Regions from separate parts of the Homo sapiens genome. Here regions 2, 3, 4, 5 and 6 are each linked to region 1. The links come from fine-mapping of genetic effects on gene expression. A gene starts in region 1. Each other region holds a variant in brackets. All regions are shown on one strand. Distances are from middle to middle. Region 1 holds the start of PTPRE (protein tyrosine phosphatase receptor type E). Region 2 overlaps PTPRE (protein tyrosine phosphatase receptor type E). Region 3 overlaps PTPRE (protein tyrosine phosphatase receptor type E). Region 4 overlaps PTPRE (protein tyrosine phosphatase receptor type E). Region 5 holds the start of AS-PTPRE (lncRNA antisense to PTPRE protein-coding gene). Region 6 overlaps PTPRE (protein tyrosine phosphatase receptor type E).

What was found. PIP is the estimated chance that this variant, and not a neighbour inherited with it, causes the effect.
Region 2: its variant is fine-mapped to the expression of PTPRE in whole blood (INTERVAL, PIP 0.95).
Region 3: its variant is fine-mapped to the expression of PTPRE in whole blood (TOPMed, PIP above 0.99).
Region 4: its variant is fine-mapped to the expression of PTPRE in whole blood (TOPMed, PIP above 0.99).
Region 5: its variant is fine-mapped to the expression of PTPRE in whole blood (TOPMed, PIP above 0.99).
Region 6: its variant is fine-mapped to the expression of PTPRE in whole blood (TOPMed, PIP above 0.99).

Annotation. Positions count from the first base shown.
Region 1 is chr10:127,903,950-127,909,080 of GRCh38, forward strand. PTPRE (protein tyrosine phosphatase receptor type E) reads left to right here and starts at 3,154. Exons shown (of 21, transcript NM_006504.6): 1 at 3,154-3,360. RefSeq lists silencers at 1-67, 2,998-3,117.
Region 2 is chr10:128,080,514-128,085,644 of GRCh38, forward strand. PTPRE (protein tyrosine phosphatase receptor type E) reads left to right here. Exons shown (of 21, transcript NM_006504.6): 21 at 2,319-5,131. The coding sequence ends at 2,393. Among named protein-coding and RNA genes, the nearest start is that of AS-PTPRE, 21 kb to the left of the region's middle. The variant T/A (reference allele first, on the strand shown) is at 3,001.
Region 3 is chr10:128,069,138-128,074,268 of GRCh38, forward strand. PTPRE (protein tyrosine phosphatase receptor type E) reads left to right here. Exons shown (of 21, transcript NM_006504.6): 13 at 555-690; 14 at 1,164-1,313; 15 at 1,671-1,764; 16 at 3,001-3,077; 17 at 4,200-4,334. Among named protein-coding and RNA genes, the nearest start is that of AS-PTPRE, 9.3 kb to the left of the region's middle. RefSeq lists a silencer at 202-399. The variant C/G (reference allele first, on the strand shown) is at 1,997.
Region 4 is chr10:128,051,661-128,056,791 of GRCh38, forward strand. It overlaps PTPRE (protein tyrosine phosphatase receptor type E), which reads left to right. Exons shown (of 21, transcript NM_006504.6): 7 at 4,463-4,553. Among named protein-coding and RNA genes, the nearest start is that of AS-PTPRE, 8.2 kb to the right of the region's middle. The variant T/A (reference allele first, on the strand shown) is at 2,099.
Region 5 is chr10:128,059,008-128,064,138 of GRCh38, forward strand. It overlaps PTPRE (protein tyrosine phosphatase receptor type E), which reads left to right. Exons shown (of 21, transcript NM_006504.6): 8 at 1,932-2,008; 9 at 2,672-2,708; 10 at 4,076-4,173. It overlaps AS-PTPRE (lncRNA antisense to PTPRE protein-coding gene), which reads right to left and starts at 3,418. Exons shown (of 3, transcript NR_136150.1): 1 at 3,120-3,418; 2 at 1,680-1,837. RefSeq lists enhancers at 2,961-4,160, 3,492-3,541, 3,952-4,161, 4,501-5,099. The variant A/G (reference allele first, on the strand shown) is at 2,926.
Region 6 is chr10:128,045,292-128,050,422 of GRCh38, forward strand. It overlaps PTPRE (protein tyrosine phosphatase receptor type E), which reads left to right. Exons shown (of 21, transcript NM_006504.6): 4 at 2,099-2,198; 5 at 2,473-2,546; 6 at 4,239-4,375. Among named protein-coding and RNA genes, the nearest start is that of AS-PTPRE, 15 kb to the right of the region's middle. RefSeq lists enhancers at 1-169, 170-669, 2,078-2,147, 2,448-2,497. The variant C/T (reference allele first, on the strand shown) is at 2,348.

The sequences.
Region 1 (5,131 bases):
CCTCCCACAACACATGAGGACTACGGGAACTACAATTCAAGATAAGACTTGGGTGGGGATGCTGCCAAACCATATCACTCAGTTTTTCCTTCCTTGCCCTGCCCCACAGCCAATCAATGATCAAGACCTGCTTTTTTCCTCCTAAGGTTGAATAACTTTATGAGAATGTTTCTGTATGATGTTTAAAAGCAACTTCTTATTTGCTTTCCACACATTGATTTTGCCTTTTTTTTTTTTTTTTTTTTTTTGCTTATTCTCCTAGACAGTATTCCTGGCCTCAGCATTTTAATTTTAATTGACATCTATTGGGCCCTCTAAGCATGATGGGCAGTATCTCAGTTTCTGCAGAGAAACCCAAAAGCCCAGTCCTCAAGTAAAATAGAAGACAAGACAAGTAAGTGCAGTTAATATCAATAATCGCAGGAGCACTGCCTCAAGCTGTGTTTTAGAGGGAAGGGGCTAAATGGTTGGGTGTAGGGGAGGCCTGGGGAGAGCGGGCAGGAGGCCAGCCACGGACAGGCCTGAGACAGGATCAGACAGCCAGTGTGCCAGGGAGCTGAAGAGGACTCTGTGGACTCAAGAAGGGCCCTAAAAGAGGAGTGGTGAGGTGTTCAGGAGGGCAAGAGGCAGAGGAGCTCCTCAAAGCCTGGGAGGAGGATAGGGGAATTGACTCTGATGTCAATAGGGACCTTGAGCCTATGAGAGGCAAAAATGAAGATGGTGAAGAAGGATGAAGGGCTTCCCTGTGGTAATCAACAGGGCCCTGGCACAAACACTTCTGACAACACGCTTCTGTGTGACAATGATGAATGTCTGTAGACTTTAGAAAGGGTTGAGAATTTTTGGGGTCCAGCAGAGAAGATATTATGAGGAAAGAAGAGCCATCTGCCTCCCCATCATGTTACCAAGGCTGTTCACTTTCCAATAGCAGATGTCTGACAAAGGCAAGTTGTTTCTGTCTTCTTAGCTCACAGTCTCTGCCTCCTCAGCCCTGCAGCGTTAACAAGCAAAACTGTGCTTAGCAGAGCTTTGTAATTATGGCCTTCATGTACATAAGCCTGACTCTGTAGACCACAACAGCAGAAAAATCCAAAGCCTGGTGACGTCATGTGCTACCTGGCCCCACCTCAACCTGGGCTGTTCCTTGGAGGTGCACTCAGGAGGGAGCCACCCGCCCTGCTGGGCTCCGAGGTGACCAGGCTGTCTGCTGCTGCTGGCTGGGGCCCATCCTCCTCTGCTCTGACAGCCCAGACGCCTTCACTGAGCACCTCCTGGCTACTGACGTTGCTTTAGGAGCTTGAGTCTGAGAAGCCATGGAGATCAACAGAGCCTAGGCTGCTGGAGCTTACAGCCCTGGGGGTAGGGGAAGAGGGCACGACAGACACAAAAGGAGCCAATAAACCCACAAATAATTCCAAACTGTGATGGAGGATGTGGAAGAGAGTGGCAGAAGAGATGGATGCAGGGCGATCTTCCAGAAGCCACCAGTAAGAAGGAACCAGGTGCACTGGTTGGAGGAGTCCCAGGCAGGAAGGAGCTTGGCTCTGGCACTGAGAGAAAGGAGCCGTGATTGGAGCCCAGCGGGCAGGGGTGAGAGGCTCAGAGCAGCCAGGGAAGTCAGGCAGAGCCTCGTGGGAGTTTGGGTTTTAATATTCCTGGAGGCTTTTAAGCAGGGGGCTAGCAGGACCCGGTTTACACTTTGTGAGGTGCCTGGGACCAAGTGTGAAGAATGGATCATCTGGGAGAGTGGGTCAGAAGCTGGGGAGCCACTGCAGGTTTTGGAGGGGCGCAGGCAGTGAGATGAAAGGGCAAGATGCATGGAGAAGCCAGTGGGAAGTGGACTTGGGCCCTCTGGGAGGTGGACTTGAGGTGGGACACGGAGGCAGGGACAGGGACGACTGCAGAGAAACTAAGTAAGAGCAAGAGGCAGGTCTGAGACAGCAGGAGACAGCCAGGAGGAGCTGAGCTTGGAGGAGAGGGCCCCAGAGTGGTGCTGCTTAGAGTCATTCCCATACGGATGGTGTTTAAAGCTTTGGGGCTAGACAAGGCCCCCAGGGACAGAAATGGGCAGGGCAGGGCAGGGAGGTGGAGCTCAAGTTCTCCACTGGTTTCGCAGCTCTCCGGCCCCTGTGGAGGGGAAGTCCCACTCTGGGCAAATCACGTGGGGGTGGCCTCTGCCAGGAGGCACCCATTGCTCTGCAGCCTTTGGGGTCCGTAGCTCTGTCTAAACAGGCCTTAAGTATGCTAAGAGTCGTCGGCTGGCAATCGGTGCAACGTGGGGTAACACACCGTAAGTGCCACTTTCTCCCCATCCATTCATTCATTCATAAGCCTAATGAGCTGGGTCCCTACCACAGAATGCAGCTTCCCTCATGAGGGCTGGGCCGTGGCCCCATCCAGAGGGCACGGCACAAAGGTTCAGAACCAACATGCCACCAGTGTCTTTTCTGCTCCTTCCAGGGAACTGCCTTTTCTCTGAAAGCTCCCTAAATAGCTTGAGTGAAATTCCCTGGAAGAAGTCGGCTAGACAGCAGGCCCAGTGCCTGGCTCTGTCGCTCTTCTTTCTCTTTGTGCGTTTTTAACTTTGACAGATACTGCCTTCGGGACAAGCGAGCCCTCTTCTACATCCCCCAGACAGGCGCCTTATCCCCTCCTCTTTCCAGAGGAGGCCACCAGGCCCAGCGACCTCACAGCTCTCCCAGCTTCCTCGCACCAGAAGCGCACGGGGTGCCCTGCGTGTCCCACACCTGCTGCAAGACCAGGGCGAGTCCCTAGTCAGGCCACTTCCTGGTGCACAGGGATAGGGCAGGGAGAGGCAGGGCCTTGCCTTTGCTCTCCACCAGGTGTGAGTGCCTGCCATACCCTGACCCTCTGTCTACGCACCTGGGTCCCGGCGGAGTGGCTGGACCAGGCCTCCCCGGAAGGGGCACCAGCCTTGAGTAAACGGATGCCCACAGTGTCTGGGTGCTCCCAGGGCAGGGCCGCAGGGCCTCAGGGCCATACCCGCCTCGCAGGTGGGGCGGGCGCCCTGGATGCGCTCCCCGCGCCGGGCACCAGGCGTCGCCCCCGCTCCTCGCAGCGCCCAGGCCCCCGCCCCCGCCGCGGAGCCACAGCCGGAGCTGGAGCCGAGGCGGCGGCGGGACGCGGCCGGCCGGACAAATTTCCTGCTAGGCTGCGGACAGCGGGCGGCAGGAGCCGGCGCGAGCGGCTTCAGGAACCCACGGCCTCTGCGCGTCCCCGCGACCCTTCTTCGCGCCCGGCGAAGACAGCCGGGCGCCCCGGAGGGCGGCGGGCAGGCGCCCGGGAGATGCGGAGCCTCCGCTGCAGCGCGATCTGCGCGACCAGACCGGCCCCCCCGAGGTGAGCGCGCGTGCGGACAGGGACCCTGCGCCCCTGTGGGGAACTGTGCACCCCGGGAGGCCCAAGCAGGCCGGGGCGCTGCCTCGGCCGCTGCCGCGGGAGGGAGGGGCCGCTCCGGGGCTCAGAGTCCGGACCCCGGCCCCGCCGCCCCCGCGGCGCGCCCAGTACCAGCGGCTGGGGCCCGTACGACCCCCGACCCCGGCCTGTGGCGCGTCCCCTCACCCGGAGTCCCCAGCCCAACTTGGCGACCACAGTGGCAGTGCTCACGCTCCCTCTCGGTAAACAGGAGGAGGGCGCGCGTGTCTGCGGGTGGCTACAGTGCGCGGGGGCCGGCGGCAGGGCGGCGTACGTGAAAGCGGGCGACACAGAGAGGGGGTGCAGGCCGCGCGTGGGGGGCTGCGCCCACTCGAGGCTGGAGGCTGGAGCCTTTGAAGAAAGTGGCTCGAGTTGTGCCAACTCTGGGAGGGGCCGGCGCTCTGCCAGGATGCTGCCCCGCAGCCGGGCGGGCGCCCGCGCCTTCCCAGGGAGGCAGGTGGAGCGGGATGCAGCAGCCGCCGGGGGTCGGAGATGCGGCAGGGAGACCCTGGCAGGTGGTCCAGGCTGGACTGCCGCGATTTGCAGGGTCGACGACCTCACAGGGCTCCTGAGCACAGATGCGAGCGCGGTGCCAATTCTGAGAGCTCCCGGGACCATCTGGGGAAGGCCGGGCAACCCACAGGATGGGGAGGCAGAGCCAAGCCGGATGGAGACCGCGCTGGACCTGACCTAAATTCCTTCCAGGCATGCAAACCTTTCCAGAAAGATTAGGCAATTATACTTGCAGAATTATGATATTGGTTTGTCTTGAGTCGTGACCATTCCATCAGAGTTTCAATCCAGGAAACTCAAAGAAAGAATACAGCTCTCTGCTTGTATTTTAGAGTGAATGAGCGTATAGGTGAGTTGAATGAACACCAGCAAAGAGTGATCACGTGATACAGAAATTACTGTGTCCATGTCCAGTCAGCTCTGCATTTGGCCCCAGGTACCCCTTGACCCAGGGCGTCTGGAGGTCTTTGTGTCCCAAAGATGGATGAAGTTCTGCCTCTGCACACTAACGACTCTTGTCCATTTAAACTGTGTGTATGTGGGTGGGGAGGGGGGGTGTGGAGGGTCGTTTCCAAAACTGGGATAATGGCCAGAGGAGGGCATGAAATGGTGGGGGCCAGTGGCTGGGGCAAGCGTCTGACCACCACGGTCACTCAGCCAGCATGGTATGGGCAGAGCTCTGTGGTGTGAACAGGGTTAGGGTCTGTACTTTCCAAGCACAGGCTCTTGGCATTTGGGGAGCAAAAGGTCAGAGGCGAGGTGGAGCAGGCCCAAGAGGTGGGGGCTGCGCTGTCAGTGAGAGAGGCCTGACGTACCACCCAGCCCTTCCCAGACAAGGCTCTGCCCCTGAATCTGACCTTGGGGGCCAAGATTTTTGTTCATTGATGTTGGTGATGCCTGTGAGTCACCACCGCCCCCTCCCTGCCCCAACAGACCGTTCCCATGTGGACAAGAGCTAGGAGCTAGATTTGTCTCTGTAAAAGGTCAGGTCACTGGATGTGTCCAGATGGCTTGGGACTTAGTCACACACTCCCTCATCAGTTCCAGTCAAACCAGTTGAGGGAAGTCGATGAGGGTGTTATTGTCTTTACGTGTGATGCTTCTTGGAGGCCCTGTGTGGACACAAAGTGAGGACAATGCGGAAAGTCACACAGAGGCCACCTCTCATTTCTGTGGGGGACAG
Region 2 (5,131 bases), 180 kb after region 1:
AGCAAAGACCATCTCTCTAAGCAGTAGCATACAGAGCTTCCCCTAGTCTTTTTAGGGACTCACAGCTCTCATTAATCTGCCTGGTCTGGCCAATATATTCTATCTTCGAGAGCATCTGTCATCCAGGTGTCCTCCCGTCTCAGCTGTGCTCTTCCTGACCGCAGCTTGCCCCTCCATGCTCCCTGACTGAGAAGCTGCCCTCAGATGTTGTGTGGCTGTCATCTGTGCTCTCTTGCCTGGTAACAGCTTGACAGAGCACTTTGTAGCCTGACTTTTAGAGTAAAGGGTCTAGTCCAATGCCTGGCCCGTGGCGAGGGCTCCAGAGCAAGTGGTGAATCAGCAAACGAATGAGGGAGAAGAGTCACTAAATAACCATCAGGCGTTGGGCGCAGTGCAACCAGGTGCCTTACAGATGTCTTTCTCATTTCATCTTCACCATCTGCTTGCCCTTGTGCCTGCTTCTGTTCACAAGGAGTGTTCTGCAGGTGCCTCCAGTTAGGACGGTTGAGGGGCCTGCCTGAGATCTTCAGGTATTAAGTGTCAGAATGAGATTCAAACTCTATCTGATTCCAGAAGGGAAAGGCTTAACTAGTACTGTATGCTGCCAGATCTAACATTTGGCAGGGAGATTTTGGCAAAAAAAAAACACAGGCACAAAAATATTATTGAGTAAAGAGATGATTGCTGACCTGCAGGTTGATTTAGCCCTGCAGGTGAGCACAGTGGCCCAAGAACCAGTTTCCAATTGCTGAGCACTCAGGGAAGACTTGCTTCCAGCATCCTAGGTAGGCTTTGGTTGGAACTGACATTTCAAAGGCCACAAGTACATCTGTTCTCCTGGAGTCTGTGGATTGACCAGAAATGTCTGTCTGTGACCTGAGGTGTGGCTTGTATCATCCGAGCACACTCCAAAGTACACTTCATCCATCACTGGCCCCAATCACTTGTACTCGAGACTACGTGGGATGGTCAGCAGTTAGCTGCTGTGTTAGCTATGAAAACAGAGTAATTAGTGATCGTCTCCATTTCCATCCCAGACTGAGCCAGCTTTGATATTCAGTCAATGTTGCTTTAAGTTGGAAAAGTCAATGTTGCTTTAAGCTGTTTGCCTCTTTAAAGAGAGCCTGTATATTTATTGAGAATTCCTTCTAAGAATTCAATTCCCTTTCCTTCTGAAGGCTGGGTGATCAGCTGCGTGTCTTAGTAGCCAGAAGTGAGGACCCTACAATGTGGTCTTGGCTCTTCCAACAACTTCATGCAAATTCAGAAGCAAAGTTTCAGGCTCACCTTTTCCTTCTCTGGAAAACTCAGCTCCTTCCCATCCTGGCCAGACCGGGACTCAGGAAGGGCTAAGCTAGCTGTTTGGCATCTTTCCACCCAAAAGCATTTAGATATTTGTTCACTGTGTGCTGAGAAGAGCCCAAGTGCAATGTGTTGGAAAGAAGCAGGGAGGTGCTGAGGACAGCTCTTGGCCTCTCCGGCTTTCCAAGCCCCTGTCCCGGCCCCAAACTCACATATCCCACCCAGGGGTCTGGGAGGACCAGCCTATATATAAAACAATGTCCCTTTTGTACAGTAAATGTAGGCTTTAAAATAATCTAGATATGCATTTTATTTAACTTTTATAGATCGCTTTATGAAATTTATCTGGCAATGTTAGTACTCTGATTTTTTTCTCTTTCTTTTTTTTTTTTTTTTTTTTTTTTTTTTGAGACAGGGTCTCACTCTGTCACCTAGGCTGGAGTGCAGTGGTGCAGTGGCACAATCTTGGCTCACTGCAATCTGCCTCCTGGGCTCAAGGAATCCTCCTGTCTCCGCTTCCCAAGTAGCTGGGACTATGGGTGTGCACCACTATGCCCAGCTAATTTTTGTATCTTTTTTGATAGAGATGGGGTTTCACCATGTTGCCCAGGCTGGTCTGGAACTCCTGGGCTCAAGTGATCCTCCTGCCTCAGCCTCTCAAAGTGCTCTTATTACAGACGTTGAGCCATTGCACCTGGCCTGGTTTTTTGTTTTTTTTTTTAAATTCAAAAATAGTTGTTTTCCAGTTTCAATGTGAAAGCCACAGACATTTAACTCAGCCCATTAAATACACTAAGTTGAAATGTTAATACACTAACTGACACATTCTACGTAGAAAAACAGCTTTATTTGGAATTCTGCATGTGCCTAAAAACTAAATTACGATGTGCATAAAGGTATATGGTATTTTAATGAATAGTCACACTTATTTATGTCTTGTTTTTGAGTATTTCTCCTGATTAATCAAATATATTTTTGGGAATATCATTTTAATGTGTCCTTGTTTGTCTTTTCAGGAACAGTATGAATTCTGCTACAAAGTGGTACAAGATTTTATTGATATATTTTCTGATTATGCTAATTTCAAATGAAGATTCCTGCCTTAAAATATTTTTTAATTTAATGGTCAGTATATTTTGTAAAAATCATGTTAATTTATTTCATAGTTGACATTAATATCTTCCCTAATTTCTTTGTATATATTTTGTTATGCCTTAAAGGCCACCTGCTATACAGTTGTTAAATCTTAAATATGCTTTTTAAAAATTGGAATAATGTATTAAGGTCAAATAATATCCCATAAAATATATATTTCTGCTAATATTAGTAAATATCTTAATTTTTCATTAGATTCATATCATTTAATTTCACATATTCAACACCTTTAAATGTTGTAATCTTAATATGCGAAGTGTGCCTCTGCAAGATACTAACACAAAGCTCATGTTAAGAAAACAGTTGAGGACTCAGAAGTCAGTTCGAAAATGCACTTTCCTAACAGTGAATTCACAACCCTGAACAGCAGCATTTTTGGAAGGCAAACTGTTCGTGATGGTACAATGTAAATGGGGACTTCTGTAAAGTTCTCAGTTTCGGTCCATGTGGTTTATCTTTACATTTTAAAGATCAAAGAAGTCTTTACAACCTGAATCCAGGTCTAAAACACACTAGAGTAGCTGGTGACTATAAATAATATTT[T/A]AAAATGCTGTGTCTACACCATCAAGACTGTGTCTACACTATCTTGGCTGAACGAGAAGAGATGTAAATGCTGGGTGGTCCCGTTGACCCACGGCGTTGGGTACAACAAAACCAGCCATCGGAGTTACACCCCAAAGCACCATTTGCTGTCCAGCTGCCTGTCGTTTGGCCCAGACCACCCTCAGAAAAAAACCAGCTGCCTCTCCCATTCTCCCCTCCCGTTCTGCCACAGCGGCCTGGGCTGGTCCAGTGCTATGCCTGGAGGCTCAACACAAAACTTCCCATCCAAACATTCAGATGAACTGAGCGTCTTACACACGCAGTACAGAGGAGCACACATTAGGATAGAAACAGTAGAATAACCACGGGCAATTAAACTTTAAATTTTCTGAGCAGCATTTTGGTATTTAAACATTTCTTGTAAAAAGCTGAGACAGTTTGTAAGAAAAGAATCCTTAAAATCTAGATTTATACCATTTTTTAAAGTCCCACCTTTCAATGTTTAATAAAACAAAAAGAGAAATCCTTAATCTAAAAGCTAAATTATTTTTGAATGGAAATACTACTGAGACCATTGACACTGGATAACAGTAATGATCCCATTACCAGATAAGATTGACTGACGGGGAAAAAAAAAAAAAAAGAATGGGGTGTGAATGTACCAACACTGAATCTTACAGCAGTTATCTTTCTATGGCCATTAGGTACCTAGCAGATGTGCACAATATAAACAAAAAGATATCTGGCCTACCTTACTACTAAAAGCATTTAACACGTGCATTTTTGGTACTTTTTTTTTTGTTTTCTAAAAGCTACATAAAGGCCTTATTTGACATTTTCACTGATAACTGATCGCACCCTCATGTTGCAGTGTTCGTCCCCTATTCATTAACAGTGTGTGCAAATGCAACCCCAGGACACATTATTGTTCTGATAGATGCTCACAGGGAATCAAGCTTCTCGCCCACTCCACGGCTCTGAGCCCCATCCAAGGGCAAGACTTGGTGCCCAGCTGGAAGGACGAAAGCACACTTTGTGACCGCCATCCTCACCAGCTGCATGCCTGGGCTGCACACTGCTGAACGTGCTCCTCTCTCCTTCTCTGTACAATGATTCAGCATCTCGGCGGAAGAGGAAAATGGAGCTTTTTGAGGCTCGCCAGGTCCCTTTTGTTTTCACCATTAAAATTCCAAACCCAAAGCCTTTGTTTGACTGAAGGAGAAGAGAGGGAAGTAAGCTTCTGTTCAGCACCTGAACCCTAGAAAAAGAGCCAGTTTGCTACGATGAAGGTGACATTTCTCTGGTCATTTATTTGAGAGTTCGAAGTCAAAGTCGAGGGGCACCGGCTTTGGTTCATGTCTAGGAGCCCTCTGTCAGAATCCTTGAAGCCCTTTAATGGTCTAACTGGCATCTCTTGTATCAAGAAGTACCTTTAAGGTAGACCTTTTCAGGGTGCCCTCAGGAAAGGGCCCTGCTCATGTTTTTTTCCTGTCCCCTTAGACCAACCCCAGGTGTCCACTGCAGGGGTTCTGCCTGTTCCCAAACTTTTTCCATTCCAGGAACAAAGGAGAAGCCACTTTCCCCAGGACGCAAGACTCTCCCCTCCACTGTCCGGGACAGCGTTCGCCCTTTAGCGGGGAGGTCATTACAGCCTCATGGCCTCTACCAAGGCCCCAGATCACAGGATCTCCTGGGCCTTGGAGCACCTCACGCTGGGGGAATCAATCCCTGAGGGACTCAGAATCTTCTCCGTGCAACCTGGAAAGTTCATCTCTTGTTTCCTTCAGTCAAAGAAAGTCCATTGTACATAACAAAACAGCCCCCAAACAGCCCAGTGCCGACACCATTGTTCCTTTCACACTTTCCTTTGTTGCATGCAGTTGGGTTCAAATGCCAAATAGTGATTAGAAGACGACCATTCTGATCTGTGTGTGATCTGGTCACTATGTGACTGCCTTTACGGTTTCTCTCCATGTGCTATATGAATGAAGAATGCATACCAGTGTTTTAAAAGGTATTTTTATGTGTTTTTAAACACTTTTTTAAATGAGCCTGACACCTGTGTTTCAGCATTTGGAGACATCCCCATGTTATTCTTTTAAGTGTATAATTACTGATACTTTTTTGTTTG
Region 3 (5,131 bases), 170 kb after region 1:
AACACTCGCTTGCTGGGGCCAAGCAGAGGCTGGACCCCACCCCACCCACCCTCCAGTGTAGCTCATACTGGGAAGAATTTGCAGGGTCAGATAACAGTAATCTGACAGATGCCACCTCACTTAATGCCCCGAGTCAGATGACTTGGTTTGCCCAGTTTGACAGAGAGGGAGGCTGGATACCAGAGCTGTTGCATAGTTGATCTGAGGTCCCTCTGCTCCCAGGGGGACAGATCTAGGATGCCAATCACACATATAAGAAGAAGACACTGTTTGGTAAGTGAGAAAAATTCTCCACACAGCCTAATCCGAGGCTTACTGCACCAGCTGTTAATGTGCCTCTTAGTAGAGTGTCGGTGGCTATCAGAGGACCGGCCTGAGATCACTTTACTGAGACCACAGCTCCCTCTGGTGGCTGCACTGTAGCTTTGCTCCTAATTAACCAAAAAAACAAAAAGTTGCATCCAGTGACCTGGGTGCGCAGGCCCCTTCGGGGCCTTTCATTTACTTCGGGAGGAGTGTGACTCACGACGCAGCATCTTTCTCTTTCCCCAAAGCGCGGGCGTGGGCCGGACGGGCACCTTCATTGTGATCGATGCCATGATGGCCATGATGCACGCGGAGCAGAAGGTGGATGTGTTTGAATTTGTGTCTCGAATCCGTAATCAGCGCCCTCAGATGGTTCAAACGGATGTGAGTCATGCCTTCCTCTTGCCCTGATCTAGCTTCCCAAAGCAAACCCGATGCCTTCGCCACACAGGTGTGCAGGGCCCTGGCTCTGATGGGCACGTGGCAACCAGCCTGGGCCTGGCCTGGCTTCGCTCCCCATAGCCTTCCCTGCCCACGCGTGGGACCTCAGGGACTCCCTCGTCCTCATCTTTCCCTCGTATCCTCATGTGAGATGGGGCAATCCTACTCCCCCAAACGGTGCATGTACACAGTGCGTGGCGTGCTCACCAATGTGAGGCTCTGCTGCTACCGTTCTCCTTACTCAAGGGCATAAATGGTCGTTATCCGTGGCCGGTACTCTGACTCTTGCCTCACACCTCCTTGTGTTGGCAAAAAGAGAAAAAGAAGAAAGCCGCCCTCTTTGGTCTGCCAAGCTCCACGTGGGCCAAGACTGCAGGGCAGAGTTGAGGGTGTGGGCACCCCTGGCCTCTCTGCAGATGCAGTACACGTTCATCTACCAAGCCTTACTCGAGTACTACCTCTACGGGGACACAGAGCTGGACGTGTCCTCCCTGGAGAAGCACCTGCAGACCATGCACGGCACCACCACCCACTTCGACAAGATCGGGCTGGAGGAGGAGTTCAGGGTGAGTACAGCTGACCCTCCTCTCCATCCTGGTGTAAGCAGCCAAGGGCACGAGGAAAACAGGTGACCATTTAAAGGAAGCCTCTTTCAATCACTTGCCCCTTAACTGACCTCAGAAAAAGCAGGGGCAATACCTGAGCCATGATTTACAAGGGAAGAAGGATCAGGTGGCTTTCAGAGCCTCATAGCAGCCCTACTAGGCACACATTTGTATTTCCCAATGCTAAGGAGGCTTCCTGGGTTGGAGAGTGGTTTCCTTTGAGCAGGCGTCCTTGCCAGCAGCACTAGTCCTCGGCTGAGCAATGTGCTCAGGAGTGTCAGAGGTTTAACTGTGTCATTATATCCTTCTCTGCTGCAGAAATTGACAAATGTCCGGATCATGAAGGAGAACATGAGGACGGGCAACTTGCCGGCAAACATGAAGAAGGCCAGGGTCATCCAGATCATCCCGTGTAAGGCACCCGTGGCGTGGCTTGGGCAGGGCTGGGGCGGGGCTGGTGCCGGAGGCTTTCATCCTGGAGAAGCCATTGACCGCTTACCCCTGTGCACCAGGGTCAAAAGCAGGGTGTCCTCTGGCCTCAGGCTAAGGGCTCCTGTGTGCTGTACCAAATGTCAGGTAGAAAAGACACCTGTGAAGCACCAGCTGACCCAGACAGTCCTGCATGGGTCTCAGGCAAGCTGCTT[C/G]GGATATGAGCTTGCAGATGCGGGAGGGCAGCCGAGGCTGATTTCAGGGGAGGGCTTCACAGAAGCTGGAGATTTGCGGCAGGCACGACTTGGGATTCCTTGTCTCATTCCTTGTCTCCCCAAGCCTGGGCAGAGGCCCGCCTCCCCCTTACACAGAGGGGCCTGAGCCACCCAGCCGAGGCCATGCAGGTGAACTCAGCTGAGACCACCTAGGAAAAGGCTGTGGCCTTGAGGAGGACAAGAAATGGGCCTAGGGTAGAGTCAGGACACTGGTCTGCCACCCAGGTCATGGGAGAGGGAAGGAGGACCTGGCAGGTGTGGGAGGAGTGGAGGCAAAGCTGGCAAGAAGACAGGGCCACATGCAGTGGGCAGGGGAGTGGGAATCGGGAGGCTCACCAAGTGGGAAAAAGAGAAACTTGAGAAACCCGGCCCCAAAGCAGACTCCACAGGGATCCGAGGAACTAGGGAGGGAGGTGGGAGATGCCCCGCTTGGGAGGAGGGTGTGCCTCGTTATAGACTTGTCCTCGACAGAGTCACAGCTCAACAAACACCATCTGGAAACAGCTGGGAGCAGGCCTGCTGCAGCAGGGTCTCCCCGAGCACTGCAGGCGAGTAGAGCTCCCCGGGGTGCTGCCATCTTCAGACTCTGGCCCTTGGTTTTCTGGGGCCCCGGTGTCCTGCTGGCCACTCTAGATTGCTTGCCTGGCCACATTCCATTTACTCCTTCAGCGCAATATTTTTAGTGCTTGTATTTTGGTATGTATTATATCGATTCCTGAAAAATGAAAATGATAATTGGGTGGTTTTCAGAGTTTTCCTTCAAAAAGAAAAATACCCCTGAGCCACTTTAATTATCGTCTCTCATAACGTAAACTTTCCAAAGAGTTGGCTTTACGTAGTGATTTTATTAATAGGATCTATATTTTGCAAGCTTGTAGCAATGGATTAAAGTTAGCAAGGTGGGACCCTTTTTGTAATAACTAAAGGAAGATAATGCTTTGCAGATGACTTCAACCGAGTGATCCTTTCCATGAAAAGGGGTCAAGAATACACAGACTACATCAACGCATCCTTCATAGACGTACGTATGCTGGCCTGGGTTGTGTTTATGCAGATGTGTTTCCTTCACATGTGACCACAGACTTGATTAGCTTGTTTTCACAATGAGAAAGAATTGACATGTTTCCAGAAACTCAGCCATTTTTGTTAGCAGAATTACTTGCTTAAAAAAAAAAGTGGCAAGGCACGATGGCTCACACCTGTAATCCCAACACTTTGGGAAGCTAAGGCGGGCAGATCACTTGGGGTCAGGAGTTTGAAACTAGCCTGGCCAATATGGCAAAACCCGTCTCTACTAAAAATACAAAAATTAGCTGGGCGTGATGGCAGGTGCCTGTAATCCCAGCTACTTGGGAAGCTGAGGCAGGAGAATTGCTTGAATCCGGGAGGCTGAGGTTGCAGTGAGCTGAGATTACACCACTGTACTCCAACCTGGGCAACAGAGTGAGAGCGAGACCCCCTCTCAAAAAAAAAAAAAAAAAAAAAAAAAAGTGGACTTTGGAAATAGAAGGACATAGACTCGCTGCTAAGTAATTGGCTCTTTTTTCATTCTGCTTTTAATATATAGTTATTTTTCTTTTACATATCTGTTACACACCAATTATATATCCACTGCCTCTGTGCTCTTTCTCTTGTGTGATTTCTGCAATGTGTACCCACGTGGACAATACAATTATGTGTTCAGGGCACACAGAGGCTGTCTTCATGCACAGTGGAGTTCGCAGAAGAAGGGCAAAAGGGGGAATGGCAGCCAAGTGTGTGTTCATATTGCCATTTGCAGATGAGAAAATTGTACCAGAATCCGGTGGGCTCCATGCTGATCTAGCTGAAACACACAGAAACATGTTAGAATCTAAGCCACCAGGTGCTGTTCAGGTGGCCACAGGCAACTACCAGTTCATAATACCCATTTGTTGATGACCTCAGGGGCTGACGGTGGCCGTTATGGTTTCAGATAAGCGAGCTTCTTGACCTGCTTGTCAGGTGTGTGCCTGAGTGCTCGTGCCAACTGGGGTCTGGTGCAGACCATGGAGGATGAGAGAGTTTTCCTCATTAGGCCTTAGGCTGTCCTAAACTTAGGGAGCAGGTAATGGAGCCAGGATGGAAGGAAGTCAGACTCTAACCTCTGCGCCTCCATTTGAAGGGCTACCGACAGAAGGACTATTTCATCGCCACCCAGGGGCCACTGGCACACACGGTTGAGGACTTCTGGAGGATGATCTGGGAATGGAAATCCCACACTATCGTGATGCTGACGGAGGTGCAGGAGAGAGAGCAGGTGAGGAGTGCCGCCCAGCCCGGTCCCTCCAGGGCAGCCTGTGCACCTGAGGCACTGTCCCCGTTCATTACAAATGTCCCACCTGCCATCACTGCAAACACATGGGTGAGACCAAGCCAGGACCACTAGGGAAGGAGAGAGATTGGAAATGAAAAAGGTTTCATTTCACCCTTTCCCTTTTTGGGAGTGAGGTTTAACCATAGCTACCCGCTGCCCTTTATCCTTAGCCTACATGTTATTTAACCTGCCCTGAAATTCTGCCATTTGGTATTGGCCAAGATCATAACCTGTTGAAGAAAAAGACATTTATTGACTTTTTTCAAGACATGAAGACAACAGTAAACCCAAGGTTTACCAACAATGTACATCTATCTGGGTTCTCCCCCAAGACATAACTACTGCTGTGTATTTGTGTTTTTATTTCTTTGCTCTAAAAAGGAACAGCTTTATTGTGATATAATTCACCTATAATTCATGCAATTCATCTTTTTAAAGGGTACAATTCAGTGAATTGGAGTATATTCACAGAGTTGTGCAACCACCACCACTATCTAATCTGTGATCATTTTCATCAACCCAAAAGGAAACCTCGTACCATTAACAGTCACTCCCCATTCCTTCCTTCCCCTAACCCCTGGCAACCACTAATCTGCTTCCTGACTATGGGTTTGTCTATTCTGGACATTATTATAAATGGAATCATACAGTATGTGGTCTTCCGTGATTGGGTTCTTTCACTTAGCATCATGCTTTCAAGGTTCATCTATGTTGTAGCATGAATCAGTAAATCATTCTTT
Region 4 (5,131 bases), 150 kb after region 1:
CCATTAAATTTTGCACCCAGAGGAAGTTCCTCATTCTCTTCTGCCACTGGGTGGCCCTTGGCTGAACATTGGAGTCCTTGTGCTCAGTGACAGGCAGGGTAGAGACGCGGTGGAGGGGAAGAACACTGGACCCAAAGTCAGGATCACGGAGCCTGATCCTGTGTCTGGGGAACCCTGGGGGAGCTGCTTTTTTGTCATATTTTTGTTTTATTTGTTTGTTTGAGATGGGGTCTCGCTGTGTCTCCCAGGCTGGAGTGCAGGGGCCTGATCACAGTTCACTGAAGACTCAACCTCCCAGCTCAAGTGATCCTCCCACCTCAGCCTCCCAAGTAGCTGGGACTACAGGCATGTGCCACCATGCCCACTGGCTTTTTTACTTTTTTTGTAGAGATGGGGTCCCACTGTGATGTCCAGGCTGTGCTTTTCTGCTCATCTGTCCAGTGAAGGGCTGGCCATGTCCTGAGTCCACGTTGATGCAGCACCCGTCCTCTGAGAGCACTGGAGCCTGCCATGGCCAGCTCTCTCTTGGGTCCTCAGAGGGACATGCTCCCAACCCCATCTTTCTTTTCTCTTGCCGTCTGATCTGAGCTCCTCTCCCCAAAATCATGAAAGGGAGACACCAGAGTCTCAAAGTGGCCGATCCAGTTGAGTTTTGACATGTGTGCATTGCCAATTCAAAGTGCAGGCAAACTTGGTGGGGATGAAAAGGATTTGATATTGGGGTCAGTACAGTGAATGCTGGAGTCGGCCTGAGTGTTTGTCCCGGCTCAGAGAGCTTGGGCAATTAACCTCTGCCTGTTTCCTCATCTATGAAATGAGGATACTCCCTGCCCCCCATAGGATTGTGATAACATGGACATGAGGTTGGATAACCTGGACATGCAACTGAATCCTTACGAGACCGCACTCTGCAATCTCCACCCTGCACTGGTAGAACACCATCCTAGGAAAGTCTGCTTCCAGGCCCCAGAGTAAGTCCTGGAAAGTGAGCACCACTGGGCCAAGGAAAATCCCCCGCTTCAGACAGGCTCGTCCCTACCTCCATCCTAGCAAGTTATGTCAAGCCAAGTGCCTAGGACTAACACACTGATACGTGCTGTAAAAGTGCAGAGGGAGGTGTCAACCGCAAAGCTTCCAGCACAACAAACAAACCAGAACCATTCCCTGGAGCTCCATAGAGCAGCTGGGGCCTCTTGCAGAACTGCCCACACCTAGCTTCTTGTACACTCTCCTGCTGCCTGCCCGACACTACCGAGCGGAGAGAGAAAGGAACGTGGCTCATGAGTTCATTGAAATGAAATCTCTAGGCCGGGTGTGGTGGCTCATGCCTGTACTCTCAGCACTTTGAGAGGCCAAGGTGGGCAGATCATTTGAGCCCAGTAGTTCCAGACCAGCCTGTCCAACATGGTGAAACCCCATCTCTACCAAAAAACTACAAAAATTAGCTAGGCGTGGTGGTGTGCACCTGTAATCCCAGCTACTCAGGAGGCTGAGGTGGGAGAATCACTTGAACCCGGGAGGCAGAGGTTGCAGTGAGTCGAGATCGCGCCACTGCCCTCCAGCCTAGGTAACAGAGTGAGACCCTGTCTCAAAAATAAAAATGTTAAAAAAGGAAAGAAATGAAATGAAATCTCACCTCAAACAGACAAACCACAAACAATTTGGACAATTTACATAATGGGACAGCCAATCACACAATATTTATTGGCCAGTTACTATGAGCAAGCCCCAAGCAAGACACTGCAGGGCTCATCCAGGTGTGCAGACCCCTCCAGGTGCTCTCCTTTCCCCTGGGCCACCTGAGCAGCTCAGAGATTTGAGACCCCAGTAGACTGACAGCCAGAGAAAGGGCTGCAGAGTCCATGTGGGTGGTTATTCTGTGCACTTGGATCCAGGATACATACGTGTGCGGTGCACAGGGCCCGATGCCCCTCCCCACTTCAACTTTGACCCTCTGTGCATCTGGGTGGCTACGCCCCATCTCCATGGTCTGGATCTCTGCAGCTGCCAGGAACACGCAACCGTGGGGTGTCAGAGCTTGGTCCATCCTCGCCATCCAATCCCTCCAGGGAGCCTTCTCAATTTCTTTTAATTTATT[T/A]ATTTATTTATTTATTTTTTGAGAGAGAGTCTCTCTCTGTCCCCCAGGCTGGAGTGCAGTGGTGAAATCTTGGCTCACGGCAACCTCCGCCTCCCAGGTTCAAGCGATTTTACTGCCTCAGCCTCCCAAGTAGCTGAGATTACAGGCGCCCACCACCATGCCCAGCTAATTTTTGTATTTTTAGTAGAGACGGGGTTTCACCATGTTGGCCAGGCTGGTCTTGAACTCCTGACCTCAGGTGATCCACCCGCCTCGACTTCCAAAGTGCTGGGATTACAGGTGTGAGTCACCACACCTGGCCTAATTTATCTTTTAACAGACTTTATTTTAGAGCAGTTTTAGCTATACAGAATAATTGCACAGAAAGTACAGAGTTCCCATATGCCCCCTTCCTCCCCTGTGAGCAGTTTCTCCTATTATTAACTTCCTGCATTTGTGTGTTTCAACTGCTGCAATTGATGAACCAACACTGCTCTGTTGTTACTAGCAGAAGTCCACACGTCAGGGTTTGTGTGTTGCGCATTCTGTGGGTTTTGACGAATGCACAGTATCATGTACCCACCATCCGGTATCATGCCTCCCGTGTATTTTCAGTGCTGGGGCCAAAAAAAGCTTTTGCGGGTAGAAAAAGAGAAGGCTCTAGAATTTTACCACAGATGTCAGGCTTAGATTAGGTCAAGAAGGTCAGTATTAAGATAGCCCTGATGAAGAATCAGGAACTACAGGCGGCGTAGGTGCTGGTGGCTGGGGATGAGGCCAAGAACCACCTATCACCCTTGCCACAGTGCCGCCAGACAGGTCCCTCCACATAGGCCACCCTCTTGCCTCTGCTTTGGGACCAACAAACCCCATGGCCTGGAAGGGCCTCAACCTGTGGCCATGGGGTTTGGTGGCCCCAAAGCAGAGGAAAGAGGGCGGCCTACGGTGCCCCACCATGAGCTCCAGCTGGTCAGATCTGAGTCTGCAATTGGAGAAGCTTCCTGCCCTCAGGAGAGGAAGACTCGGGACACCTGTGGGTGGCAGGTCAGGCTGTGCTCTGCATTGTGAGCAAGCCCAGGCCTGCACGGCTTGGATCCAAAGCTACGCAGTGAGGCCTGCTCTGCTCTCCTGGGTAGTTGCAGCGGGACCCCTCACATTCTCCTACATTTGAAGAAGTGAACATCCTCCTGGTAGTCTGGGTGCCGCTCTAGGCTCCTGCCCCTTGCTTGCTGGGTGACCCTGGACAAATCTATAACACCTCGCTTTGGCTTTCAGTTTCCTCACCCATAAAACGGGGACCATCCTAGTATCACCTAATGATAGGTGAGTTGCAAAGGCTGGGGCAGATGACCCAGCTCCTTCCACCGTACCTGGCGCACTGAGACACTCAGTGCATATTCATGCATGTTACTGGAATCCCAGTGGCCCCGGGTCCAGCCGCTGGTCGGGTGTAATGTCAAAGGACAGGACTCAGGGCTTCAAGAGGCTCTTCACACTGTGCATTGTGGGGAGCTCACCTGAGCAGCGAGCAGACGCAGGAGACAGCTGGAGATGACCAGGAATCAGAGATGGCGGCTGCAGGCGGCAGAAAGAACTAGAATGCAGGCCACCAGAGTTCACGCTCGGTTATGCTGCTCAGAGGGGATAGGGGCCCCGCGGCATTCCTTGCACACCTGACTTCCCTGACTGGGACAAAGGAGTTGGTTAGCGTGGTGCTTCCCAAAGACGTGTGCACTGAAGCCCTGGGGATCATGGTAATGTTCGTGCTGATTCTGTGGGTCTGGGGTGTGGACAGAGCATCTGCATTTCTAACAAGCACCCTCCCGGGAGTGCCCAAGCCACTGGTCCACAGAGCACACCTGGAGTCTTAAGCAAGATCAGGACTGTATCTAAGGCTGTTTCCCGCCCCTTGCCTCCCAGGACCGCTCTATTCATCCTTCAGCCCCAAAGTCACAGCATCCCGCTGTAAACCCTCCGCATGCCTGTCCTCGCTCCCCCATCTCCCGGTTCACAGTTCTGTCGTAGTCAGTTCTTACCAAATCATAGGCACCTGCTCTAGGCCAGGGTCCATGGGCCCTGAGATACCATGGAAATGCAAAGGCAAGTCTCCGCCTTCATGCAGCATAGGATCTGGCTGATGAGACCATCACTTTGGCCACACCACTGTTCACCCCACATGAAAGAGCACCCTGGGGAAAGCCAGGGTCTGTGTCTCCTTCATTCTCTGCCCCATGCCTGGTGCAAGGTCTGAGGCAGAGACGGACTATGGACAGCAGGTAGTTTGCTCCACGTGTTTTCATTAATTCCTGTGCTCAGTAGGGAAACTGACATGAGCATGGTGCTTGAATCCATCACATTTCATACTAATGCTACATTTTCTTCCAGTCATTGCCATCTGGACACATACAAGGAACTTTTGAACTGGCAAATAAAGAAGAAAACAGAGAAAAAAACAGATATCCCAACATCCTTCCCAGTAAGATTTTATTTTATGTTTTGCATGATCAATGGTGTTTGCACTAAACTCAGCTTTGCCTTGCAGCTCCCCGTGACTGCAGGCCATTCCTGGTGCTCAGAGGCCCCAAATCAGTCTAACTGCTCAGCATTTGCACCTAGGACTCCAGAACGTTCCTCTTTAGGTGCCCATCTCCCTGCACAGGCCCTGGGTACCTTGGTTGCTCGTGGGTCTGGCTGCCAAGCCTATGCTTACTGTTGGGACCTGGGCTGCCTGGGGCCCAGCGGGTAAGGGTGCTGCTTCGTGGCCATGGGTGCCAGCTGGCAGGGCCCCTCCTGTGGAACTCAGGCCTGGCACCCAGTCTAGGCCTGCCAGTGGCCCTGGGCAGCTCCCTTCCCTCAGACTCAGTGCTTGTGACCACAAGCTGCAAATCCCTAGAGTTGTCTGGGGTCCTGGACCAATGACAAAAATAATAGAATACGAAATTTGTAGGTGGGCAGCAGCTTTGTAGGAAGGCTCTGAATCGACCTGATTTAACCCCAGCAGTACAAGTGGGCATGGGCTGGGGAGCGTGGGTGCCAGGAGGTGGCAGGGCCAGA
Region 5 (5,131 bases), 160 kb after region 1:
AAAGTGCCAACAGCTGATAATTTTAGGAAATAATGTTTTGAATGTGAAGTGTGACTTTTTAGAATAAAAAGACAGGAAGCTCTTAGAAACTGCAAGATTCTAAATCTAAGCAGAAGGCTATATTTTACCCTGTGCTTTTCTATAGCTGTCCTCAAAGCGTAAACCATTCCAAATTATTTTCAACTAGTGTTATATGTGTTCAGCAGAGCTATTTCTGCCTGGGCATTGCCAGTCCCTGAGCAGGAGGGTCTCACAGTGAGGTCTGCAGGACTGTAAGTTTGGGGTCTGACTCCCTGGCCACCCTGTGTGGGCTGTGACTGTCTCTCAGAGCTATACCCGCCCTTTCTCTGCTGGCAGCCCGACAGAGCTGGCTCAACCATCGGAGGTCGCAGGCCACCAGCCCGTGGCCCACCTGGCAGCCTTCCAGGTGAAGGTGAGACAAACAAGGCATGACCTGGGGGCTGCCCGGCTCCCCATCACAAACGCCACAAACACCACAAACACAACCCACCCTGATCAGAGACTAAGCAGAGAAAGCAGGGAGAGGACCTAGAGTTACTCAGTAATGACTCAGGAAGGAGACCCTAAGCTTCTACCACATGCCAGACTCTGTGCCCAGTGCAGCATAAACGTCCTCAGAACCAGCCTGGTCCCAGCCTGGCCGAGCCGGACGTTCCTGGGAAAGGTTACAGGAGGAGCAGGGCCAGGCCCACAGCACTTTTAGAAGCCCATGAAAATGTCTTCATTTCTCTTCAAATCACAAACAAAACGTGCAAAACCCATTCTGGAGTGCATCTTTTCACTGGCGACCAACCCAGTCCTAAGATAACCTTCTTAATAGTTCTATGGAGGAAGCTGCAAAGGCAGAAGTGACTACAACCCACAAAAGTCATGATGGAGCCCTGACGTGTGTGTACACACACACTACATGCACACACACACACACAACACACACACTACACACCCACCGCACATAACGCACACACATACACACTCCACACACACACCACACACTCCACACAAACATATCACACACATACCACACACATACACACCACACACATACCACACACTACACACACACACACACACACACTACACATACACACCAAACCCACATGCACACATTCACACAGCATACACACTACACACATGCACACCACACATACACCACACACACTACACACATGCACCATACACACCACACACACACCACACATTACACACATACACAACCACACACACCACACACACAATACACACACACCACACTCACTACACACACACCCCACACACAGAGCACTCCACGGTCAGCCTTCTACCCCGGAAAACTGCTTGTGCAACAGGCTGGATCTACCAGACGCTCCTCACTGTGCTCGCCTTCCAGCTCTGGGGCAGACTCCGGTGGTGGGACTGAGGGTCAGAGTCCCCAATCCTAGACCCCCACATCCACTTGTCCTCATGGGGCTGGTGCTCATTTCCCTGGGAAGCCTGGGAGAGTGGACCCAGTTCTCCTGTCCTGGGGCTCTTTTAAGTGCACCCACACTTGGCAACACTGGGGCTGGGCCCAGTGCAGGGTTCATAAAATACAGCCCTTGCACTGCCAGGGGCCTGGCACATTCTGCTATTCTTGCTATGTAATGACCCAGCAGCCCCCATCCTGGATGCTGAAATCCTACCCTTGTCGTCATGCCACAGCTGAGACAGTCAGTGTTCACCAAAGCAGGTGCATTCTCTCTCAGGACACTAGTGTTCTCCATGGGAACGCTGAGGAAGAACATCTCTGCCATCCCTGGTGTCGCTGTGAAGCTGCTTTTGCCCTTCCCAGGAGCTGACACTGCAGATGAAGAGACAGCACTGTGATTTCTGGAAGAGACAGCACTGTGATTCCTGGTCCTAATATCTTGGCTTTGTTTGGGTTTTTTTTCCAGATGACCATTCTAGGGTGATTCTGAGCCAACTGGATGGAATTCCCTGTTCAGACTACATCAATGCTTCCTACATAGATGTAAGTGGGCAGAGGTTTCTTGTTCCCCTGGCCCAGCTGGGGCATGAGCAGTAAGCACTTTCTTGTCTGGTGCCCGGAGTGTAAATTGTCACAACCTTTCTGGGCAGTTTGGCCACAAGCACAAAGGGTACGGAACTGCCCGTGCTTTACACACTGGCATCAGCATCTGGGAATTTGAATTCAAGAGACAGAGATGATCACAGAGGATGTTCACTACAGCATTATGTATATTCCTGACCAAATAGAACAGGGAGCATGGGTAGTTAAACAGATTGTGGTAAAACCATGTGCAGTGGACTATTAGAACTTGATTTGTATTAATCTTTAAAAGATCATTTAATATCAATTATAAAATTCCCATTAAAAATACAACATAAAATAAATTGTACATGTTCACCCAATTAGAGGACAGAAATGTCTGCATGTCTGCTTGTGGGTGAGTCTGGGAAAGGTTTGGCAGAAAAACAGACTAGAGAGGGGACGTATGAAGTAGGATTTGTTATTTCTGGAATTGCTGGTGAGTTTTCTTTCCTTCTTAACCTTTTCCTGTGTTTTGCAAATTTTCCATGGTGAATATGTACTGCTTTCCTAACAGCAACACCAACAAATCCTTTCAGCAAAGATAATTCTGAAAAAATATAAATCTGATGTTATTTTTTCTAGGGTTACAAAGAGAAGAATAAATTCATAGCAGCTCAAGGTAAGCTTTTTATTAATTTCTCAACGTATTTTTGGTAACGTGAATAGCTCTTATTTCCTTCTCTGTATGCCAACAAGACCAAGGACTTATACTGGATTTGTGTGTGTGTGTTTACACCTAACAGACACGTTAGATATCCATTCACACAACGGATATGTGTAGTCAGAGAAACACACACTTATTCCCACACCTATATGGTGTGAACACAGGGCACGCA[A/G]TGGCCCCGGCTGCCATTCCAGCTTGTTAATACTTGCGTCAGATAACCTTGAATTTCTCTCAGCTGGCTGAGCCCTACATGGCTCCCCAAGTTTGGGCGAGGGGTTAGTGGGGTGAATAGCTTTTCAGATCAAGGCCATAACTAAGAATATACTTCAGCTGTGAAAACGTGCCCTTCACCTTGCACAGGGCTACCTTGTGTGTTGAGTACTGAATCCAGCATCACTCCGTTCCACCAGAGGTTGTCATCTGCAGGACCTGGTGTACGTGCGGTTAGATATCAGTGGAGCTGAAACCAGATTCCTCAGACTTCCTCACTCTTAGGCCAGGAGTCTTTAGGGCAATGAGCTCTGAAAGTCAGCGTCCATCAAAATCACCTGGGAAGTTGTTACAAATGCAGAATCTCTAAGAAAAAAGGACACACATGTGCACACGCAGAGGCCATCAGGAATGTGCCCAGCTGGAAACCTCAGGAAACCTGACGATCCTGGCTGAAGCAGATGAAAGCATGTGTTTCTCTCTTGCCAGCAGACACCCACAGGGAGCTAGCCCACGGCAGGACAGCAGCAGGGCCAGGGGCTTCCTTATCTCCCCGCCCATCCCCCTCAGCACGTAGCACTTAGCTCGGGACTGCAAAATAGCCGCAGCTCAGACAGGAAGTGGATAGGGGCAGAGGACTTTCTCCTAGTGACACTTTGTCTGTTGTTCACATCCCCCTCCCGAGGGACTTTAGCTCATATCGTATTGGACAGCACCATGCTGAGAGTAAGATTTTGACAAAGAGGAGGGGATTGGGAATGCAGGGTGAGGCTGGCCAGTCTCTGCCTCTCGCAAGGCTTTCACCAGCTCTCCCACACTTGGCTGTAGACCCAGCCCTCATCTGAACCCTGCTTCTTACCTGTGAACGTCATAACTCAACCTGGGCCCAATTATCTTGCCCACTGAGGAGTTCCTAGCTGGAGTGGGTGAGTGGCAGGACAGGCAGCCCCTACCGGTTCCGGAACGCTTCAGGGCATGACGTGTGTGTCCCCAACAAGCCTGAGAAGGGAGTGAACAGCTGTCCAGGGGCCAACGGCCAGGGTGCCGGGGCTGGGACCCCAAAGGGACTTCCCTTCATGCCTTTTGACTTCGAAATTGTCCTCTACACACAGGTCCCAAACAGGAAACGGTTAACGACTTCTGGAGAATGGTCTGGGAGCAAAAGTCTGCGACCATCGTCATGTTAACAAACTTGAAAGAAAGGAAAGAGGTGAGTTCCAGGCATCTGGCCCCGGTATCACTTCCTTTCAGCTGCTGCTGCCGGGCTGGGGATGTTCTTACCACTTCCTTTTCCTACTTCCCTCCCTTCCTCCCACTATCACTGCAGAAAAAAACCCAAACACATGCAGTGGCTTACAGCATTTTCTTCACGAAACAAATCCCCTGTGTCCCCAGCATCTCACTGTTATCTAATCTGTGATAACACAATGACACAAGAGTTTCCTTTTTTTCCCAAGTAAGAGTGGCCCCCGGCTGGCCCCATGGCTCTGCCTGCCTGATGAGAGACATGAATCTTAGAGTTTTAGGATGTTGAGCGTGTCATGCGGCAGAGCTCAGGCTAGAAATGAACATGATTTCGCGCTTATTATCCAGACTAGAGAAATGCTTTTGGAAAACGTTGGTATATTGAAGAAATGTTGATTTGTCATCCGAATATATTTAATTAGCTGTTTCTAATTCAAAAAAGGATGCATGTACGTTATAAGAATTTGAATCATTGACAAAGAAGAAAAGTTGAACTGATTCGTTTCCTAATGTAACAAGTACTCATTAGCATCTGCTGTGCTGGGCCAGCTCTGTCCCAGGTGCAAGGAGTAGGGGCTCAAATTCAGGGCTGAGAAGTGGTGGCTGTGGGGAGCCTGGGTGCGGGGGTGGGGTTGAGTGACAGGCAGGGAGCCATGCCATAGGCAGTGAGCTCACTCTCCAGAATGAAAGAAGAACTGGGAGCCTGAGGGACACTTACCACAGGTGGGGCGAAGTTAGGAGGCTGTGCTTCTGGCGTGTTCTGGCATGAAGGCCCGGTTCAGTGGGAGCCGTGTGTCCTGCCCGGCCCTGCTCAGGGCCTGCTGTGTCCTGAGCTCCTCAGTCATCTGCTGGCCTGGCCCCAGCAGTTCCCAGGCATTGTAGCGAGGACTGTGGGGAAGGGCTGCCATTTTTAGATGGGAGTA
Region 6 (5,131 bases), 140 kb after region 1:
TACAGGCAGGAACGTGGAGGCCAGACCCACGGAGGGCTGGTGGGGCCCAGGTGCTCCCTCGTGTCTCTCTCTGATGAGAGGACCCCATGAGTTGGCTTGGACTAAACTTAGTAGTCACCATCTCTGCAGAAGCTGAGCCCAGAGCCTGACCTCTGTGTGATGCAGAAGTGGGAAGTTTCATTGCCTGGGGCCCCGGGAGATGAGGGCAGATGTACCTGGGTACATTCGAGAGGGAGGAGGGGGACCGAGGCCCAAGCTTTCTGGCTGAGTCTGGAGTGTGAGCAGCAGCCAGGCCCTCCGTGGGGCTGGGCTCCAGGCTGCCCCTCCCTCCGTGTCAGGGGTCTTCCCACTCAGCCTGTCGGAGTTGCTCCAGGGCCCTGGCAGAGTGGAGAGGGGTGCTCTCTGGAGCTGCAAGTGTGGAAGCCTCAGGCCAGCTCACTTCCCCAGGGAAGCTCTGCTGTGGGCAGGTTGGAGGTCAAAGGCGGGGGACTGTGGCAGCCACACCCAGCCACTCATCCTAGCACCAACCGAACCTTGTGTGGGGCCAGAACCAGCTCCTCTGGGCCAGGGTCACAGACACCTGAGTGTGGGGGCTGCAGAGGACAGCCAGGCTGCCAGGCTACTGACACTGCTAGCCAGATGGGGGAGGCACGGACCCCACCTGGAAGGTGGGCACTTAGTGGGTGGGCCAGGTGAACAGTGCCCTCTCTCACGGCTGGGGCCACCTCCGCATCACAGACCAGCTGTTTCCTCTGTGAACTTCAACATCTAATGGTCACCCACGTCCCTAAAACTTCATCATTTATGAGAAACGATGGTGCGGACCACTCATAGGGTGCCAGAGTCAGTGCCAGGCCTGGGAGGGTAGGGGATGAGGGAGGAAAAGCCACACCTTCCCTGGGGAGTTTATAACCTAGGGTGCAAGGCGGAAGGCATGAGGGTCCCTTTTAGAATCCAGATGAGGGGTGTGAGGTGAGCGGAGCCTCTGGGGCTGCGGAGCCCTCCCAGTGCCCGGAGCACCCTCGGGAGGCCGTGCCAGCCCTCAGGAGGAAGCGCATGGACCCTGCGCTGGGCTCAGGGCAAGTGATTGGTGCTTCTGGGAACTTAAAGAGTTGGAAGCCCGGTCGTTGCCTTCGAGGGGCTTCCCCAGAAACCCGGGAGCCAAGGCAGTCATGCTGAGGCCTGTTCACTCATGGCAGAGCGAGGTTTGCGCTTTGAGGCATCCAGGGCCCCTCTGGGTCCACAAGAGAGGAGTCCAGTGGGCTTCTTGGAGGTGGGGGCCTTTGAGATTGTCCTCGAGGAGTGGGAACATTTTGGTGATGAGGGGGCTGTGTGGCCAGCGGGGGAGGAGCAGGAACAAAGTGCGACGTTGGGAGAGTGGGTGGGGTCCAAAGGTGGCAGCGAGGCCACCAGTGTCCCTTGGAATTTGGGCTGATGAGCCAGGGGTGGGTCCTGAGCAGCAACAAAGCCACTTAGCTGGGCCTGGGGCTGTGGGTCTCTTTCTGGGTGAGGAAGGTCAACCTGTCAGGTACAAAGGACACAGTAAGAGGCCGGTGGTGGCTGGGCACTCGGCCTCTGACAGGTGGAATCGGGACCTGGAGGCTCTGAAAGGTGGGGTCACAGTGCGCCAGGGCCACAGGCCTCTGCCCAGCCCCAGGGCCAGGCCGCCTCCCTGTGCCTGAGCTCCTGCCCAAGCCCAAGGGGCCCTAAGAGCTGAGCTACGCCGAGTCAGCCTCCCGCGCTGTCCTAGGACCCTGCAGTGGACACCGGCCCCTTCACCCTTCTCCAGCTTCTTAGCAGGAGAGCCAGGCAGCCAGGCCGTGTGGGGGTCTGGGGAACTCACCCCTGTCATGCCTGCCCCAGGGATTTTGGACAAGTCACCTCACCCACTCCTCAGTCCCGGATTCTTTCTCTGAGTCAACAGCAACAACTAAAGTCGCTTCTCTGTTACCTCGTGGGGCCTTTTCAGGATGATGGATCCACTTTACAAAATATAGTTTGGGGTTCTGGTGTCCAGGAAGAAGGGCTTATGGAGGGAGACTCTTTTGCAAACTGTGAAGTGAGGTCAGGGGTTAGGGTCTTTCTGCTTCTCCTGCAGGCCCTCCGGACCCGGGCGCCTCCCAGCCGCTGCTGGCCTGGCTGCTACTGCCGCTGCTGCTCCTCCTCCTCGTGCTCCTTCTCGCCGCCTACTTCTTCAGGTAGGAGTGTCCCGGGGCACTGACTTGCCCCAACCAGCTCAGAGGAGGAAATGAGCCTTCTGATGCTGTGGGCGTGGGCTGTGCAGCAGAGGGCAGCTGAGAGGCTGGGTGGCTGGGCCTGGGAGACACACAGAGGCCAGGCCTTAGCG[C/T]GGCTCAGCCATGAGCAACAGGAGTAGCTTTTCCCGGCTCACCTGGTGGGTATCACTGTGCCGAGCGCTGTTGGCTCTCGGGGAACCTAGAAGTGTGGAAACCTAACGCATCCTGTGTCTCTAAGGTTCAGGAAGCAGAGGAAAGCTGTGGTCAGCACCAGCGACAAGAAGATGCCCAACGGAATCTTGGAGGAGCAAGGTACAGAAGCTGCTCTCTGGCTGGGGCTTGGGGGAAAATGTGTTCTTTTTTAGCAGACACTGAGGTGCTTTCTGCCTTTAACGTTCAAAGTAAATTTTGAGGTGTGCCTTGCCACTTTCATCTCACTCTACCTGGTATGATGCTGTCATTTAGAATTTCACTATTTCAAAACTTTAAGGATCATTTTTCTCTCGGGTGTGACATGGACGTTTGAGACATTTTTGTTTGTGGCTTTTTTTAGAGAGACTGTTCATATCCTGTCGTTTTCACAGGGTGTTGACATGTAACACTTTTCAGTGAGGCCTTACAATCATTCTCAGATAAGACTGTCTGGCTCAGAAACTATTCAGCTGGGTTTGTACTGCTTTAGGATCCAGCTGGAAAAAGAGACTCGCTCTCCTGAAGTGCTTCATGTTTACAGAGCATCAGAGTCAGCTGGGAGCATTTCCAACTTTTCCATCCGAAGTACAGTTTCGAACTTGTTGTCGCTACTTACAAAGGAACATTGTTTTTCTCTCCATACATAGAGATGAGATGACCGAGAAACGTGTGTAAGGCAGAGGCCACAAAAATATTGCTTCACACCCCAGTGACTACAACTTCCTGGAGTCAGCTTCCTACCTAACTGTAGTCAGTTCTATGGTTTGGGGGAACACACGTGCCGTCAGACTAAAATAGACTCTTAAAACGGACCCTTAGATCATTAAAAGAATATCACCAACAAGGACCCAGCTGAAATGTAGCCTCCCAGCGCTCGCGGGACCCGAGACCTGGTTAGACGATAATGTGGCACCAGGTGCTGTCTTCCTGCCCTCGTTCCAGTCCCCGGTTCCCTGCCCTGAATGTTTCAATAGCAGGAACGGAAGGGAGGAGGGTGCGGCTAGTGAGTAGCAGGGAAGCTCAGCATCACTCATTCTGATCCCATCTGTCACTTGGAGGAATGAGTCTTGGGTGAAGTTTTTGGCTGGGCTTCAGAATGGCTCTGCAGGTGGGGACAGGCCCTTTTGCAAGTGTGACAGCTGGGTTATCATGTTGACCTTGTCAATATCAGCTCATTCTCCAGGAAGAGAAAGACATGTCCATAACTGTTCTTGCCTCTCACTCCGAACTTGGGGAAGGAATGTGTCCAAGAACTCCCTTATAACGCGTACTTCTCCTTCTCAATGCCCCTTGTCACCCTCCCCAGACAAGGGTGGTTTTCCCTTGGAGCTTATGGGGTTTGAGGAACCAGGAATATTTGTTATGAAGAAGAAAAGGCTGAGAGAGAACGTTCTGAGTTTGCTCCCAGAAGCCGTAATTACTCTTTCTTATTTCCAAACCTGGAAAGCTGAGCTGGAGAGTGAGGCCGTCTTGAATCCTTTTTGGAAGGAGCAGGGGCTGGAGGGAAGGAGAGGTGGGAGGGTGGGTGGATGAGTGGCCTCGGGAGGGGGACAGGCTGTCTCCAATGGGGGAGAGCAGGTGACACTGGGCAGAGGGACGCCCGTCACTTGTAAATGATGTGGATGCCTCACAGGAGGCGAGTGTTTGGATACAGCTGCTCGGGACCCGGCTTAGCCCAGCTATGCGATTTGAGAGAACTGTTCCAGCTCCAGCCTGGTCATTTCTTCAGGAATGTCGTTGGTCAGCTTGGTTACTCAGTCGCCTATCCAGGAATGTGGCTAAATGGCCCCCATGTTTCTTTTGATCCCACAGAGCAGCAAAGGGTGATGCTGCTCAGCAGGTCACCCTCAGGGCCCAAGAAGTATTTTCCCATCCCCGTGGAGCACCTGGAGGAGGAGATCCGTATCAGATCCGCCGACGACTGCAAGCAGTTTCGGGAGGAGTTCAACGTGAGTGTGGGGAGGGCTCTCTGCTGGGTGCCCTGTGGTGGAGACCTGTGAAATCCAGTGTTAGAGTTCAGGATGAATTATCCCAAAGACTCAGAACCCTTGCATCAGTTATGACACTGTCCCATGAATGGGCGTGTGAGGAAACCTGGTGTGTGGTGCAGTGCCCTTTGCCAATGCTTATTTCCTCATTTATAAGATGAGACAGTTGAGTTAGAGGTTTGTGAAGCCTCCTTACACCTCCCCACTCTGAGTGTCAAGTTCTAAAATCAACTGTGGCAGAAACACTGTTATCTCGATAACACAGAAGGCTAGGACCTGAGCGCGGCACGGTATGACAATATCATGGGGAAAGTAACAGAGCCCCAAACCATCCTTTCATGGCTTCTGAGAGCTGGAGCACCTAATCAGAGTAGGCGATGTTCCTCTTCTGAACCACCATCTCGGCATTAATGAAGCAGCTGTGAGCTGCCTTGAGAGAACACTAGCTATATCTGCTTGTGTATCAACATGGGTGGGTGGGTGGGTGGATGGATGGATAAGTGGGAGGGCAGAGGGATGGATGGATGGATGGGTGGATGGATGGATGGATGGATGATGGATGGATGAGTGGGAGGGCAGATGGATGGATGAATGAATGCATGGATGGATGGATGAGTGGGAGGGCGGATGGATGGATGGATGGATGGATGGATGGATGGATGGATGGATGGAGTGGGAGGGCATATGGATGGATGAGTGGGAGGGCAGATGGATGGA